2 separate regions of the Homo sapiens genome follow, and region 2 is linked to region 1. The links come from fine-mapping of genetic effects on gene expression. A gene starts in region 1. The other region holds a variant in brackets. All regions are shown on one strand. Distances are between the middles of the regions. Region 1 holds the start of GNPDA1 (glucosamine-6-phosphate deaminase 1). Region 2 overlaps LOC105378204 (a long non-coding RNA gene).

Region 1 (8,678 bases):
GCGTCAGCCTCCTGAGTAGCTAGGATTACAGGCACGTGCCACCACACCCGGGTAATTTTTGTATTTTTAGTGGAGACAGGGTTTTACCATGTTGGCCAGGCTGGTCTTAAACTCCTGGGTTCAAGTGATCTGCCCGCCTCTGCCTCCCAAAGTGTTGGGATTACAGGTGTGACCCACCACTCCTGGCCAGATCACATCTTAATAACAAGTTAGTGTGTGTCTGTGGCAGATTGTATTTTTTAAACATGGCCATACTTGTACATGTATCCCGTCCAACATGCTCTTCTTATAATATTACTGAACTTCTTACACAGAGAGATGGGGGTCTATGTTTTCTCTTTTTAAATCTGGATAGGGGCTTGTGATTTCTCCAACCCACAGAGCTCAGCAGAAGTGATGCTATATGACTTCTGAGACTAGGTCAGAAGAAGGATACAGCCTTAGCCCATCTTTGTCTCTTGATACGCTTGCCCTTGGAACCCACCGCTATGTTGTGAGGAAGCCCAGGCAACAAGGAGAGCCATGTGTGAGTGTTCCACTGACAGTGAGCACCTGTTGTCAAGACATGTGAGTCAATGAGCTTTCATACGATTCCAGCCCCAGAATTTGAGTCTTTCAGTTGAGGGGCAAGATATCATCGCCACTGTATCCTGTCTGAATTTCTAGCCCACAGAAACTGTGAGAAATAAGTCATTATTGTTGTTTTAAGCCACTAAGTTTTGGGGTAATCTGTTACACAGCAATAGATAACTAATAAAATATCCTTCCAGAATTTCCTCTAACTAGCTTCAGGGGAAAATGATATTTAATTATGTATTCACTCATTCACTCACTCAACCACGAAACCCAAAAGGGTATATTTGGCTTCAGACATGCTATTCTAGGGGGCTCAAATGATGTCATCAGAGTTCTGTGTCTCTCTTCTATTTGTTGTACCTTTCTGTAGCTCTAAGCTTTCCTCTGTTTTACGGCTCAAGATCTCAGGAGAAGTGTATTTTCCCCCAGTAGTGGCATAAACCCTAAGGAAGATCTGAATCACCTGCTCTAGCAGTGAGTCATGTTTTCAATTTCAAGTCACAGGAAATTCTCCTAACAATGATTTAAAGTTTAAGCCATAAGGACATTTACCATTTACTTAGAAGAAGTCCAGAAGTAGGAGGTCCCAGCACTAGTCAGATATCAAGGACATAAGTGTTTTCCCTCCTCCACTCTATCCTTATGCTTGGTGCCTCACAGTTACAACGTGGCCTCCCCAGCTTCAGTCATCACAACTGCCTTCAAGGCAGGAAGGAAAGGGAAGGAACCAGAAACCGCCAGTTTGTTTCTCAAGCACAGCACTTTTCTCAGGAAGTAAAATATCTAACCAGAAGCCATCCTCCTCCCTCATTGGGCAGAATGAAGTTACTTGGCCACCCCGTAGCTGTGGGAGAAGCTGTGAGAGTCGTTGACTTTCCAGTTTCTCCAGTGGGAAGCAGCAAGGGAGAAGGAGTCTCTGAATGGCTGCTGGGTTAGTGTCTTCCATGCCTGCCTGGCCTTGAACTAATCATGGCCAGAGCCATGGAGTCTCTAATTGGTTTGCTCCTAAGTCAAAGGGTAGGGCCAGCACCACACAAACTCTATGAATTGAGCAGAATTTGGGAGGTAACATCTGGTCAGGTTGTTTGCCCAAAGCAAGGGTGCATTAGAAGGTATAAAAATATCTGACCATACAAGAGTTGCAGAGTGTTCCATTGCATGGATAAACTCACAATTCTTTTAATTTGGCAACTTTAGTTCCAAGACAAGAGGATGGGAGGATAGGTGTGGGTAATAGTTTAAACACAGATGTGGAGTAGGAGGAGTACAGGGAGTCAGGAGGTTAGGGCTAGAGAGCATTTCAGTATGGTTAGAGAGTGGGCTGTAAGGAGGGTTAGGAGGAAATAAGGGGTAAGTAATAACAGCTGGCTGTGAATGCCATGCTATGCTAATATTTCATTTAATAGTCACAACAGCCACACGAGGGCAGTATTACTTAATTTCCACTCAATTCTTATGTTTCAGGTAAGAAAACTGAGACCTGGAGAAGTTGAGTCATTTGCTTGAATTACTCACTAAATAACCAGAAATTAGCCAGACCAGAATTGAAATGCAGGTCTTTCCGATTAGTCCCCACGCTGATCCAAGAGCCTCCAGGCTTCGCAGAGACCCTGCACTGGTTCCCTGCAGAAGGGGTAACTCAGGGGAAATGGGCTTAGTCACCAGAAGTCAGTCACTCTCCTCCTGGAAAGGTCTGGATGCAGATGCTGCAGACCTGGCCCATGTTATCAGACGTGATCGGAGATTGGAGTTGGAGCTTCATTGTGAAACATCTGCAGTCCTCAAGCTGAGACAACATTTCTGGCTGGGGGCGGTGGCTCATGCCTGTAATCCCAGCACTTTAGGAGGCCAAGGCGGGCAGATCACCTGAGGTCAGGAGTTCACGACTAGCCTGGCCAGCATGGTGAAACCCCATCTCTATTAAAAGTACAAAAATTAGCTGGGCATGGTGGTGGGCATCTGTAATCCCAGCTACCCGGGAGGCTGAGGCAGGAGAACTGCTTGAACCCGGGAGGCGGAGGTTGCAGTGAGCAGAGATCACACCACTGTACTCCAGCCTGGGCAACAGAGCGAGACTCCATCTCAAAAAAAAAAAAAAAAAGATTTCTGACTGAATTTAAAAATAAACAAAAACTACACCAACACCGAGCCATTCACAGCCTCTCAGGATTTGGAAAACAAAACAAAACAAAACAAAATAACACTGAGGCAAAGAGCAAGTCCCCCACACTGTAAAGGTATCAGCTCCACCATCTGGTCTCATCAGGGCCTCACCAGATGAAGCCTACCCCTAGCAAGCTGGTCTGGAGCTGCAGTTGGGCCCAAGGGCTGGGTGAGCGCCTGGGGCTGTCCACAGTGAGCAGATTCAGCAGAATTGCAGAACGTGGCCACCCGGCTGACTGAGGAAGGCCCTGTCCCGTGGGCATAAAGCCAGGATTCCTTTGGCCTTTTGCTGCTGGAGGAAAACTAGGCTGATTCAGAAGGTCTCACCACTGCTCCCTAGCACTGACTAAAGTCCGGGATGTCAGACTATGAGGTCATATATCACAAGTCTCTGTACGCCTTTGATCCCCAGTTTCCACATCAATAAAATGGCGGTAATCATATCTGACGATTGGGCGGGATTCTATGAAATAATGCGCACAAAGCTCTGGCAAAACCCTATGTAATGGAAGATGTTACTGATGACCAGCACTCAAGTCCTTCCTCCAGCCTCCGCATGGAAAGTTCCCAAGTGTCCCTAGAAGTCTGGAACACTCTAATGTTGACTGGAAAGAATAAGATGGATCTCTTTTTCTGATATGGAAGCGTCCCAAATCCAGTCATACCAGCTGGGAGGCAGTGCCCGCTAGCGGTAAAAAGCATGGATTTTGGATTTGGACAGATCCCCCTGAATTGAAGGCACAAGGGAAACCACTTGTGCCTCTGGCCAAGTTAATTTTTCTCTCCAAGCGTCAGTTTCTCCACCTGTTAAAAAGTAACGGCAAACCTACCTCACTGGAGCTTAATAAGGATTAAGTGAAATAATGCAGGTCAAATATCCGAGCCTTGATATATATAAGCCTCATGTGTATGTGTTCCCATTTATGTAAAATAACAGTGTAAGCATATTCAAAGAAAGCAATTCAGAATGTACTCTTAAACTAAGCAATGGTTATCTTGGTGTGGGGAGTTGGGGAAACCAGGGGCCTGCCTTTTTCTCTATTATATAATGCTGCAAAGTTTGATCTTTAAAAAAGGACATTAAAAAGCCCAATTGTACTTTAAACAACACAAGTTTTAATACTTGGGTAAATAAATGGCATCTAAACAAAGAAAGAAACTGAAGGCAGAGCCAGGCCCAACCCTAGGAGACTGAGGAAGCGATTCTGCTTTGCCTGCCCCCAGCTCAACCCCTGCACTAAAACCCCCCGGCCCCAGCCCCAAGGTCCAGGGGGTTGTATTCCTGGGGGCGACCCGGCGCCCCTCAAGTCTCCCTCCTCTTGCACACACACACACACAAACCAGACTCGAATCCCCGCCTCCCAAGGGAAAGTGTTTTTTAAGGTCTGTTCCAGGGCCTGCCGGGGCCAGGGACCGAGGTGGGACTGAGTGGCCGGAACTCCTCCACCTGGGAGAGTCGGTCCGGGTAGCTGCGGCCAAGCTGAGTCAGCCCGGCGGGCGGCGCACGCGGCGCCGCGTGACCCGCAGCCACGTGACCCGCGCGGGGCCGGGCCGCCGGCGCAGTCGCTGCAGCCGCCGCGGGAGGCGTCCGTGTAAGTGGGTAGCAGGGCTGGCGGGGACCTTCCTCGCGGGCCGGAGCGCGGAGCGCTGCCCCAGCCCTACGGCACTCGGGGTCGGGACCCCGGGGAGCCGCCCTCACACATTTTCCAGGAGGGATCGGAGGGGCGATGGGGTGGTAATGGGGGTGGGGGACACGCTGTACCCCACCGACGACCGCGCGGGCCACCTTCGCCTCTTTCCTTCACACTCCCACTAACCGCAGTGCTGGGGGAACAAAATGTCCTCCTTCTGGAGCGATTACCTTTTCCCTTTTGTGCTTTGGGGGAAACTGAAGACCCAGAGGGGTTCGCAAAGCAAGGTGGGCCAGTAGGAAGACCCCTCCGCTAGTCCAGAGAGAGCACACAGCTCCCCAGGCAGAGCTCATTGCCCCACCTGCTCTAGTGGCCCAGCATGATCCCATGACCTCTCTACTTCTGGAGGAAGAGTCTTGGGGTAGACGGCGGGGAGGGGGTAGGGTATCCCGTTCCGGTAGGGGCAGGGATGAGGGAGGCGGGGCTGAGCCGAGCATCTATCTGGATGGTAACAGCCAACGTAGAAAATACTAAGTTGTTTACATGCATTCTCTCATTTCATATTACCCGTCGTGAAGTCTGTGAAGTAGGTACTATTGTCCCAATTTTTACATAGGAGGAAACGGCTCAGAGAGAACTTAGGTCCTTTGACCGAGGTCCTGCAGGTGGTAAGTGAAGGAGCTGAGATTAGAACCCAGATCTGCCCCCAGTGGCGCCTCCTCGTGGTCTGTGGGTGGTGGAGACGACTGGCCTAGCCTCTTAGCTCCTCTGTGAATAGAAAGGCCTTTTTCCTGGCTCAGACAGCTTGGGAAGGGGATTGTTGCTGGGTAAGAGAAGCTTCTCCCACCACCTCCATCTCTTTCTCTGCCCCTTACCATTGATTCCTTTCTGTCATCCCCTCTCCCCCACTGCAGGACAAGATGAAGCTCATCATCCTGGAGCACTATTCTCAGGCGAGCGAGTGGGCGGCTAAATACATCAGGAACCGCATCATCCAGTTTAACCCAGGGCCAGAGAAGTACTTCACCCTGGGGCTCCCCACTGGTGCGTTCTTGGATGGAGAGGGTGCCGTGGATAAGGGTGGAGAGAGTAGGCAACAGGGGCCAGGTACACCGGCTCACTCAGCCAAGGGACTTCACGGGGGCTCTGGGGTACTGGTGCTGAGAGAGCACCTTCCTGCCCCTTCCACATACAAAGGACCCAGCTTCCCTTATGGGTTGGTTTAGTCGCTGCCTGTCCCTGCAGAATCCTGGAGCAGAAGGGATCTTGGTTGGCAGGAAGAATTTGATTTTTAGGCTACATCCTAAGTCAGCCCTGTCCACCAGGGTTTCTTAACAGAATTAAGTCCTGATACCCTAAGGCATTCATTTTATGTAATGAATTAATTTCTCTTCTCTGCATCTAGAGGGGTACCAGCTAAGTACCATCCTTGGGAGAATTGAAAAGATAGTCACTTAGGTAATTTTCTGTAAGGCTTAATTAAACACAGGACCTAAATAAAAAACAGTTCTAATTTCTTTTGGAAAAAATCAAAATGTTGCTTTTTCAGAAAGATATTTTGACCCCAGCTCCTCAAGACAAATGTCCTGATTATTTCTTTCAGAGATGGATGGGTTTGCCCTAGTGGCCCTACCTGACCCATCCATTAGCGTGTCTATGTGTGTGTGTGTGTGTTGGAGGGGTCTTCAAACTTGTTCTTTTTCCTTTTTTTTTTTTTTTTTGGTCTTCCTTGCAGTCCAGACTTTTTCTGTAAATGGCCAGTAGTAAATATGTTAGACTTCACTAGCCATATAGTCTCTGTTGCAACAACTTAACCCTTCTGTTGTTTGAAAGCAGCTATAATTAGCCTGGCATGGTGGCGCTCACCTGTAGTCCCAGCTTCTTGGGAGGCTGAGGTAGGTGGATTGCTTGAGCCAGTAGATTGAGGCTGCAGTGAGCCATGATTGTGTCACTGTACTCCAGTCTGGGTGACAGTGAGACCCTGTCTCAAAAAAAGAAAAGACAATATATAAGTGAATGAGTATGGTTGTATGCCAATAAAACTGTATGGACACTGAAGTTTGAACTTATATAATTTTCACATGTCACAAAATATTATTCTTCTTTAATTAAAAAAAAAACTATTTAAAAATGTAAAAACCAGGCCAGGCATGGTGGCTCATATCTGTAATTTCAGCACTTTGGGAGGCTGAGGTAGGCAGATTGCTGGAGCCCAGGAGTTTGAGATTAGCCTGGGCAACATGGCAAAACCCCATCTCTACAAAAAATAGAAAAATTAGCTAGGCATGGTGGCACATGCCTGTAGTCCCAGCTACTGAGGAGGCTACGGTGTGAGGTGTGAGTATTGCTTGGGCCAGGAGGTCGAGGCAGTGAACCATGATTGTGCAATTGCACTCCAGCCTAGGTGACAGAGCAAGATTCTGTCTCAAAAAAAAAAAAAAAAAGAAAGAAAAGAAAACCATTCTTAACTCATAAGCTGTATAAAAACAGGCCACAGGGCCGGGTGTGGTGGCTCACGCCTGTAATCCCAGCACTTTGGGAGGCTGAGGTGGGTCGATCATTTGAAGTCAGGAATTTGAGACCAGCCTGGCCAACATGGTGAAACCCTGCCTCTACTAAAAATATAAAAATTAGCTGGGCATGGTGGCGGGCACCTATAATCCCAGCTACTCAGGAGGCTGAGGCAGGAGAATCAATTGAACCCAGCAGATAGAGGTTACAGTGAGCTGAGATTGTGCCACTGCACTCCAGCTTGGGTGACAGCGATACTCTGTCTAAAAAAATAAAAAATAAAGGCCGCAGGCCAAATTTGGCCTGTGGACCAAAGTTTGCTGAGTTCTGCACTAGAGGTTTGTGGGAGTAGTATCCACCTGTGCCTGTGAAACTACCAATGTCTCAGGCCCTCGGAGGCTGTGCTAACATCCTGTCTCCTAACTGTGGAGAGACCCAACCTCTGTATGGGTCAGAGTCTGGCCTTCTGAAACCATTCCCTCGTTCCCATCATTGCAGAGTCAGATCCAAGCTCTTCAGAGTGGCATTCAAGGCCCTCCAAAACCTGGCCTCTCCCTGCCTGTCCTGCTTGAACCAACAGGACAGCGTTTCCACACGGGTTCCTTGGAACATTGCTTCTGTTAGATGTAGCACCTGTCAGGGTTCTGAGTGGAAACCACAGAAACCAACTCCAGCTAAATTAAGCAGAAAAGGAGTTTATTGGCTAGATACTGGGAAGTTCAGAGAATTCATGGGAAGGCTAGAAGTTTGGAAAATGGCAGGAGAGAGGAAGCTATGTGGCTCAGGCATAGCTAAGGCCTTGTCACACGGACCAACTAATTATTTTGGGTGGGCTGCGGGGAGCTGCCATTCACTCAGCAGGTATTTATTGAGTACCCTCTGTATGCAAAGCTGTTCTAGCCTCTAAGGATACAGCAATGAACAAAAAGGATATGAACTTCTGCCTTCTGAGGCTTAAATTATAATGGGAGAGACATAATAATTAGCAAAATATAGAGTATGTTAGATGGTGATAAGAGGAAAGGAGAAACATGAAGCAGGAAAGGATAGGGAGTGTGTCGGCAGGGGTGGGGCTGTGCAGTGTTGGATATGGTGGCAGGGAGGGTCTCATAGCCAGGGGCCAGGTTCTGTGGAGCCTTAGAATAACTGGTGTTGCTGAGGGTGAAATGAGAAGCTATTGGTGGGTTTTGAAAAGAGGGGTGACATGACGTAATCTCGATGGGTTTTTTTTCTTTCATTTTTTTAGTTTGCAAAATTTCAAATATTCAAAAAAGAGGAAAAAAACAGGTCAATACCATTCACCTAAATTCACCAATTGTTACCATTTTGCCACATTTGCTTTTACCTTTCTCTGGCTCTTGTTCTTTATCTACACACACACACACTTTTTTTTTCTGAACCACATGAAAATAAGTTCCAGACATCCTGACACTTATCTCTAAATCCTTCAGCACATATCTCCTGAGAATAAGGACATTCTCCTACACAACCATGATACCATCATACCTAAGAAAATGAAAAATCATGCCATCATCTAATATGCAAACTGTGTTCACAATTTTTTCTCAATTGTCCACATTTATCTTTTATAGGTTGGTTTTTAAAAAATTAATTCAGTGTCCAGTCAGGGTTCATGCATCTTTAGTCTTTTAATATACAGTGTCCTCCTACCTTTTATTGTGTGTGTGTTTTTATGACATTGACTTTTTTTTTTTTTCAAGATAGAGTCTGGCTCTATTGGCCAGGCTGGAGTGCAGTGGTGCAATCTCGGCCCACTGCAACCTCTGCCTCCCAGGT
Region 2 (8,678 bases), 84 kb before region 1:
ATGGACAAAAGATTAACAGGAGAAGAGGCTATTAACTTGCAAGCCAATGGGAGTCACACCAAGTATGAAACTCAAAGAAGGACCTGACAGATGGAGTTTAAATACCCTCTTCACAGGGGAGATGAAGGCAATTTTAGAGGAAGAGTTATCACTCTTCATATGGTTAGGCTTTGCGTCCCCACCCAAATCTCATCTTGAATTCTAATCCCCATGTGTCAAGGGAGAGACCAAGTGGAGGTAATTGATTCTTGGGGGCAGTTTCCTCCAGGCTGTTCTCATGATGGTGAGTGAGATCTCGTGAGATCTGATGGTTTTATAAGGGGCTCTTCCCCCTTTGCTCAGCACTTCTCCTTCCTGCTGCCTTGTGGGGAAGCATTGCCTTGCTTCCCCTTTGCCTTCTGCCATGATTGTAAGTTTCCTGAGGACTTCCCAACCATGCTGAATTGTGTGTCAATTAAGCCTCTTTCTTTTACAAATTACCCAGTCATGGGCAGTTCTTTACAGCCATGTGAAAATGGACTAATACAAAGAATAAGTAATTTTTAGGGGAGATGAATGGGCCCAAAGAAAAGACAATAGCCTGGGACAAAGGTCCTCTGAGCTCTGGGGAAGGTGGTGACAAGTTATGGGAAGGTGAGGGGACAGAACTGCAATGCAAATATTGTCTTAGTATGCAAATAAGGTCTCTCAGGCAATATGATAAGTTTGCTTGGGTGGGTGTAGTGACAACCTTTTGTTTCTTCTTCCTGATTTATCTTCCCTAGGCAATGAGATTTATTTATTTATTTATTTTTATTTTTATTTTTTTGAGATGCAGTTTCAGTCTGTCACCCATGCTGGAGTACAGTGGGATGATCTCGGCTCACTGCAACTTCCGCCTCCCGAGTTCAAGCCATTCTCATGCCTTAGGCTCCCGAGTAGCTGGGATTATAGACGCCCAACACCATGCCTGGTGAATTTTTGTATTATTAGTAGAGATGGCGTTTTGCCCTGTTGGCCAGGCTGGTCTTGAACTCCTGACCTCAAGTGATCCGCCCACCTCAGCCTTCCAAAATGCTGGGATTACAGGCATGAGCCACTGTGCCCCAGCTGGCAATGAGATTTTAAACAGTGGATTAAAGACAATTGTGTTTATTTTGAAAGAACTTCCCTCAATGAGATAAGGGACCTTCAGAGAGAGCCTGTCCCCACCCTTGTGGGGAGAAACAAGAGAAGGTCAGAGAGACACTGATTCTGAGGTCACTTCTAAGGCTTTCAATTTCCTTTAATTCAAAGTGCTCAGTATTCAAATAATACGCCATATTTTGGTGTATTATTTTCTGAGCCCCAACAGTTCTATAGGTATCTATTAGCTTTAGCTGGCTTATAGTATGGTGTAAGACTTCTATTTCCTTGGGAGTCTGAGGCGGGCAGATCATGAGGTCAAGAGTTCGAGACCAGCCTGGCCAAAATGGTGAAACCTCTTCTCTACTAAAAATACAAAAATTAGCCGGGAGTGGTGGCACACATGTGTAGTCCCAGCTACTCGGGAGGCTGAGACAGAAGAATTGCTTGAACCCGGGAGGCAGAGGTTGCAGCGAGCTGAGATCATGCCACTGCACTCCAGCCTGGGCGACAGAGCAATACTCTGTCTCAAAAAAAAAAAAAAAAGACTTCTATCTTTTTATTGATCTTCTACTTAGTTGTTCTCACTGTATTGAAAGCAGTTTGTTGAAGTCTCCAACTACTGCTATTGATTGTCTATTTGTCCCTTCAATTGTGTCAGTTTTGATTTGTGTATTTTGCTGCTCTATTTTTAGGTGTATATATATTTATAATATCCACTTATTTTATGCACTTGATCCTGAAAGGATTTAGGAGGTTACTGTATAGCAAGAAATCACAAATTAGAAGTAGATGAGAAAGAAAAAGCAAAACAAGAGTAGCAACATAAAATAGACTTTGTCTTCTTGTTCACTTTTGTTGCCATGTGAACAGGGCCTGTCCCATAATAGTTCTTCATAGAATTAAAATAACACCAAGAATAAGGTTAACACAAAAATGAATTTATACATTACAAGTGTACCGTAAACTTGGCATCCAATTAAAATGGAGACCTGATTGGTTATACAATTGATAGTGACCCTGAGCTAAATAAAACAAGAGATGATACCAAGAACAATAGAGAAATTCCTTCCAAGGGTTGTCACTAACATTCAATTATAAATATGCCAAACAAACTCCTCCATCCTAAACAGAATATATGCTTTAAGTTTGGGAATTTCCCCTTCCCAGGAGTGATGCTATAGTTAGTCCCCATGGGCTGCCACATCTGATTGTGCAAATTGTGTACTGTCCAACTCCAGGTTATCCATCACATTGCAGTCTATGCAAACAACACCCTCTCCCCAACCACACACTCTGCATTGGGTAATATACAACCTAGGCTCCTATAAGAGTGACTCCATAAAATCTTTAAGTGATTCCTCCTCTGACAAATGGCTTAGTGTTCACTGTATATTTAGGGATTGTAAAAGAACAGAATATGCTACCCCAAAATATACTTCTTTGGCATAAGGATTATTTTGAACCAATTATTTTAGGAAATAGCAGACATGGGAGAATCTCTGAAAACAGAGAAGTTTCCCATTTGAAAGGGAAATTTACATTTATAAAGGAAATCTCCATGTGTAGGGATGTCTTTCTCTGTACTAGGAAGAGAAAGATATTCTAAATCACAAGAAATTCTTATCAGTGGAGAAGGCACCAACTTATATCTGCATAACAAAGCTTACCCTTGTTTACTGTACATTTCCTGGTTGCCTTCTCATAATTTACCTCCACCACACAATTCTTTCACTGATTTAGCTGAAGATGGTATTTAAGCCTGAATTCTAAGCCACCTCTCTGAGAGTTACTCATTTCCCTGACTGCCCAGGTTTATATGAGATATACCTGTTAGTAAACTTCTTTTGTTTTTCTTCTTCTTCTTTTTTTTAAAAAAATATTTCTTTCTCTGTTTTTTGTTTTTTTTTTTTTTTAAGAGATGGAGTTTCGCTATGTTGCCTAGGCTGGTTTCAAATTGCTGGACTTAAGTGATTTACCCACCTTGGCTTTCCAAAGTGCTGAGATTACAGGAATGAGCCAAGATACACGTTAGTAAACTTCTGTTTGTTTTTTCTCTTGTTAATCTGTCTTTTGTTACAGGAGCCCCAGCAGATAACTTAGAAGGGTGGAAGGAAAATTATTTTTTCCTCCCTTACAAGGTGTTGTGGGTGGCCAAGAAATGAGGAACAGCGTAGTGTTCATCTACAAGGAAATGAAGTCTCTGAACCTCATCTTTGGACACAATGTTCCAACCAGTTGTCTTAACCAAGTGCCTTGAAAAGAGAACAAGGTGAGTAGAGAAGGTGCTTCACTTCTCCAAGCTCCCACACTGATTCGTAAGATAAGTCAAGGGGTTCTCACATTTCCTAGGACGGTAGTTTTCTCACTGTATTTAGAGAGTATCAGCAGAAACACGATTGCACACGGGAAATGCTAAAGCTAGGAGCTCTGCAGTGTGTCAGGGGAGACGCATATGTGTTAATTATGACGCAGAAGAGAA[G/A]TGACCCTCAGGGGCCCTTAGTGGAAGAAGCCGTGTTGGCTTGCACTCAGCAGCAGCTTGTGGGCATGCACGCTGGTTACTACAAGTCTTCAGGGAGCTCTGCTCAGGTGACTCAGCAGGCCTCAGGCAAAGTACAAGAGAATCTCTAGTTCTAAATAAGATTACACGAGGACCAGAAAATAATACCTGAGTTTTTGTTTTGTTTGTTTTGTTTTGTTTTTAGACAGAGTCTTGCTCTGTTGCCCAGGCTGGAAGTGCAGTGGCACGAGCTTGGCTCGCTGCAACCTCCGCCTCCCAGGTTCAAGCAATTCTCCTGCCTCAGCCTCCCTAGTAGCTGGGATTACAGGCGTGAGCCACCACGCCCAGCTGATTTTTGTATTTTTAGCAGAGACAGGTTTCATCATTTTGGCTAGGCTGGTCTCGAACTCCTGACCTCAGGTGATCCACCTGCCTTGGCCTCCCAAAGTGCTGGAATTAGAGGCGTGAGCCACCATGCCTGGCTGCTGAGTTTTTTTAAGTACAATAGAAATCCTGGCCCAGTTATTCATAACTTCTCCCTAACCTTATCCCCAAGTTGGGACAGTCCTTTGTCACATCTTCAGTAACTAAAACCCACAGAGAGCAGCAAAGACAAGCCCCTCTCCGTGTCAACTTCCTCCCCTGGAGTGAGCACTGTTATGAAAGAATCGGGGTACAAGGTGGCTGGGCGCAGTGGCTCACACCTGTAATCCCACCACTTTGGGAGGCCGAGGTGGGCGGATCACCTGAGGTCAGGTGTTCGAGACCAGCCTGACTAACATGGAGAAACCCCGTCTCTACTAAAAATACAAAATTAGCCAGGCATGGTGGCCCATGCCGGTAATCCCAGCTACTTGGGAGGCTGAGGCAGGAGAATTGCTTGAACCCAGGAGGCGGAGGTTGCAGTGAGCCAAGATCGAGCCATTGCACTCCAGCCTGGGCAACAAGAGCAAAACGCCATCTCAAAAAAAAAAAAAAAGAATCGGGGTACAAGGTAAGACACCACCTGGCAATGAGGCCTTTCCTGAGTTCCTTATGGCAAAACAGGCCACAAAACCTTGGATTTCCATTTCTAGCAGAATAATAGGCCACCTGCTTCATGGCTGAGGGAGGCTGTGTTTTTGGCTCTCGACACACCAAACACCCTCTTGCCTTTACCTGGTGAGCCAGTATCACTTCATCAGCAAGCATGGTCAGATTAGTTTATAGCTGCTCCAGAACACCAGGTTACATTCTCCTTGATGTATTTCACCATAAAAAGTTGTAAGGCACATTTTTTATTGTTCAATGCCCTAACAAGGGGCCTCTGACGTCATGAGTCCCAAGAATGCTGTTTGAATAACACATGACTTGAGCAGTTACTTTAAGTGAGGGACTGTGCCGAACAATTTTATATTTATCATCTTTTTTTATTAAAATAAACACATGAGGTAGTGTCTACTTCTATCTCTGTTCTATGAGTGAAAGAACAGGTCATATGGAGGTTATTTTGTGTTTGTTATTATTATGTTTTATTATTTTTATTTTTTGAGATGGAATCTCACTCTGTCACCCAGGCTGGAGGGCAGTGGCACAATCTTGGCTCACTGCAACCTCCACCTCTTGGGTTCAAGTGATTCTCCTGCCTCAGCCTCCTGAGTAGCTAGGATTACAGGTGTCCACCAGCACACCCAGCTAATTTTTGTAGTTTTAGTAGAGATGGGGTTTCACTATGTTGGCCAAGATGGTCTCGAACTCCTGACCTCAGGTGATCCACCCACCTTGGCCTCCCAAAGTGCACGGATTACTCACCACGCCTGGCCTGTGTGTGTGTTGTTAGAAGATTAGGGCTAAGAGGACTTTATTTGGTTTGAGTCTTCATTTTACAGATGAGGAAACTGAGCTCAAAGGAGTTAAGTCACATGCCCATAATCACGCACCCAGGAAGTGGTTTTAGGGTGGCACACATCATCCAGCTCTCTGTGAGTCTGCGGCCTAGCCTTTCATGATTTGAGGGTTTGTGCCACCCCCAAGTATTCTGTCATCCTGCAACCAAACTATGCTAAAAGGCGGGGCGGGCAACACACTGCATCAGATTGAAGTCAAACTTCGTGCCTCAGAACACACAGAGTCCCTCTAGCCCTTAACAACTTTCTTTTCAGGAAACCTGCCAAGTGCTTGGTTACCTTTTGAGTTCTTCCTGGGTGTCAGGGAACACATCTAAAAATAGATCTGTCCCCAGCTCTCCCAGAAGAGGCTTGTAACTTAAAAATGTCACTCCCTCCTCCCTTCCAAAACACAGACTTCACTGTTCCTTCCTTCCAACCCAGCAGCTGCCTAAGAATATACCTTCCTCTTACCTGAAGACTAGACTTCCTTCTTCAGGAAGGGACAATAGTGTCTCTTGCCAGGAAGGAAAGACCTTTCATATCAGCTTTGACAAAAATTGCTTTCTCTAAAGCAGAATGACTTCAGGGAAAAGGATGTGGGTCTTGTCCTGGTCTTTCACCTCCTAAAGATCGGCAAAATGGGACAATGTATATAAATGTGTTTTATAAATTGCAGATACCAGGAACTATCATGTGTCTCTGCATGTGTTCCCTGATTCTTCAAAATTGCAGTGGGTGGAAGGGAGACTTCTCTAGTGATACCTCTGGTGACACAGATTTTCCGGCCACAGAAACTCGGGGAAGTTTTTCCTGGTGTGGGCTTTCCGTGGGTAACTCCTTGTGTGCTGAGATGACATTAGAATGATTGCAGAGAGCAGGCCTGAAGCTGGGCTGGGCTCACACCAGCTAAAATTGAGTTTGAAGCAAGCCAGCAGAATTGAGGAGACAAAGAAAAAGAGCCTGTTCACCCATGGGAGTCTCTCCCAGTTGATTCTGTACCTTGTTAACCTGGAGTTGGTCTCAACACTAAGAAAAGACGTGTTTGCTAGCTTCTCGCCAGTACCATGCAATGCTTGAGCTCCACTGAACACTTTGTCATGTTAGAAGTGTTTCAGTTATCTTTATTTTATTCATGTATTCACTCCTTCAATAAATAGATATTTAATTCTTACTCCATTGGCAGCTTTCTCTGTTTAAAAGACTCCATTTGCTGTCCACATATAGTGAATATAGTTTGAAGGTAAACAATTGTTTGAATACAAAAAATAAAGATGGGCCCATTTCTATTGTGCTCACTCTCTGCCACCCTCCTTTCCCCCAACCATAAACTAGAGGTCACTTTGGTGATAGTTTCTGTTCCTGGGAATCACTGTGCTCCTGAAAAGCACTATTTTTAGAAGGCCAGAGTACTCTTTTTTTTTTTTTTTTTTTTTTGAGACAGAGTCTCACTCCCATGGTCGAGGCTGGAGTGAGTAGTGAGACACGGCTCACTGCAGCCCCGACTTTCCTGGGCTCATCAGGTGATCCTTCCACCTCAGCCTGCTGAGTAGCTGGGACTACAGGTGCACACCACCATGGCCGATTAATTTTTTGCATTTTTAGTAGAGATGGGGTTTTGCCAAGTTGCCCAGGCTGGTCTCAAACTCCTGGGCTCAAATCATCTGCCCACCTCAGCCTCCCAAAGTGCTGTTATTACAGGCATGAGCCACTGTACCCGGCCTCCTTATATATAAATTTTTTTTGTCCATCTTTGATTATTTCCTTAAAATGGATATCTATAAATGAAATTACTGTTTTTCAGATATAGTACTTTTTTAGATTCTTGATCTACATTGCTAAAGTGCTCTCCAGGGAGATTGTACTGATTAATATTCCCACCAGCAGGGCACACCAGTACTCATTTTTCCACACTCTTACCAACATTGGTTATTGGCAATTTTAAAAAAGTCTTTGCTAATCTGATCGAGTGTGGTGGCTAATGCCTATAATCCCAGCATTTTGGGAGGCCAAGGTGGGAGGATTATTTGAGCTCAGGAGTTTGTGATGAGCCAGGACAACACAGACCCTGTCTCTATTTTAAAGAAAAGAAAGGGGCCGGGTGTAGTGGCTCATGCCTGTAATCCTAGCACTTTGGGAGGCCGAGGAGGGTGGATCACGAAGTCAGGAGATTGAGACCATCCTGGCTAACACAGTGAAACCCGTGTTTTCTACTGAAAATATTTAAAAAATTAGCCAGGCGTGGTGGCGGGCGCCTGTAGTTCCAGCTACTCAGGAGGTTGAGGCAGGAGAATCCCTTTCACCCAGGAGGCAGAGCTTGCAGTGAGCTGAGATCACGCCACTGCACTCTAGCCTGGGTGACAGAGCAAGACTCCGTCTCAAAAAAAATTTAAAAAAAAGAGAAAAAGAAAAGAGAGAAAAATCTTTGCTAATCCAATGCACACGCCTATTTATATCTTTTTATAATTAGTCTTTGATCTATAAGCATTCTCTATATATTAGGAATATTACCCTTTGTTTATTGCAAATATTTTTCACAGCTTATCATTTGTCTTTGAGTCTACTCGGCAGCATTATTTGCCATATTGAAGTTCTTTCGCTTTTTTTTTTTTTTCTTTCTGAGACAAAGTCTCACTCTGTCGCCCAGGCTAGAGTGCAGTGGCACAATCTCAGCTCACTGCAACCTCCACCTCCTGGGTTCAAGCAATTCACCTGCCTCAGCCTCCCAAGTAGCTGGGATTACAGGCATGTGCCACAATGCCTGGCTGATTTTTGTATTTTTAATAAAGACACGGTTTCACCATGTTGGCCAGGCTGGTCTCGAAATCCTGACCTCAAGTGATCCACCCGCCTCAGCCTTCCAAAGTGCTTGAATAACAGGCATGAGCCACCGCACCTGGGAACATTTTTAAAATGTAGTCAAATGTATCCCTCCTTTTTTTTTTTTTTTTTTTCTTTTTTAGGCTTAGGAAGGTCTTCACCCCCAAAATCACAAAAATACTTAGCTCTATTTTCCTTAGTGTTTTTATGGTTTCTTTTTTACACGGACATATCTGATCAAGTAATTTATTTAGGGGTAAGGAAGCTAGTAATCCAGATTTTTTTTTTTTAATGGTTAGCTGGATTCCATACCATTTGTTAAATGACCATTTTAAAAGTCTCCTTTATTTCTGGAATCCCACCTTTTTTCTTTTCTTTCTTTCCTTTTT

The links.
Region 2: its variant is fine-mapped to the expression of GNPDA1 in whole blood (INTERVAL, PIP 0.95).

The regions. Positions count from the first base shown.
Region 1 is chr5:142,008,648-142,017,325 of GRCh38, reverse strand. GNPDA1 (glucosamine-6-phosphate deaminase 1) reads left to right here and starts at 4,299. Exons shown (of 7, transcript NM_005471.5): 1 at 4,299-4,331; 2 at 5,285-5,414. The coding sequence starts at 5,291. RefSeq lists a cis regulatory region at 2,760-3,032 and silencers at 4,174-4,443, 5,115-5,174.
Region 2 is chr5:142,092,817-142,101,494 of GRCh38, reverse strand. LOC105378204 (a long non-coding RNA gene) reads left to right here. Exons shown (of 3, transcript XR_944368.3): 2 at 3,187-3,376. Among named protein-coding and RNA genes, the nearest start is that of NDFIP1, 12 kb to the left of the region's middle. RefSeq lists a silencer at 104-304. The variant G/A (reference allele first, on the strand shown) is at 3,587.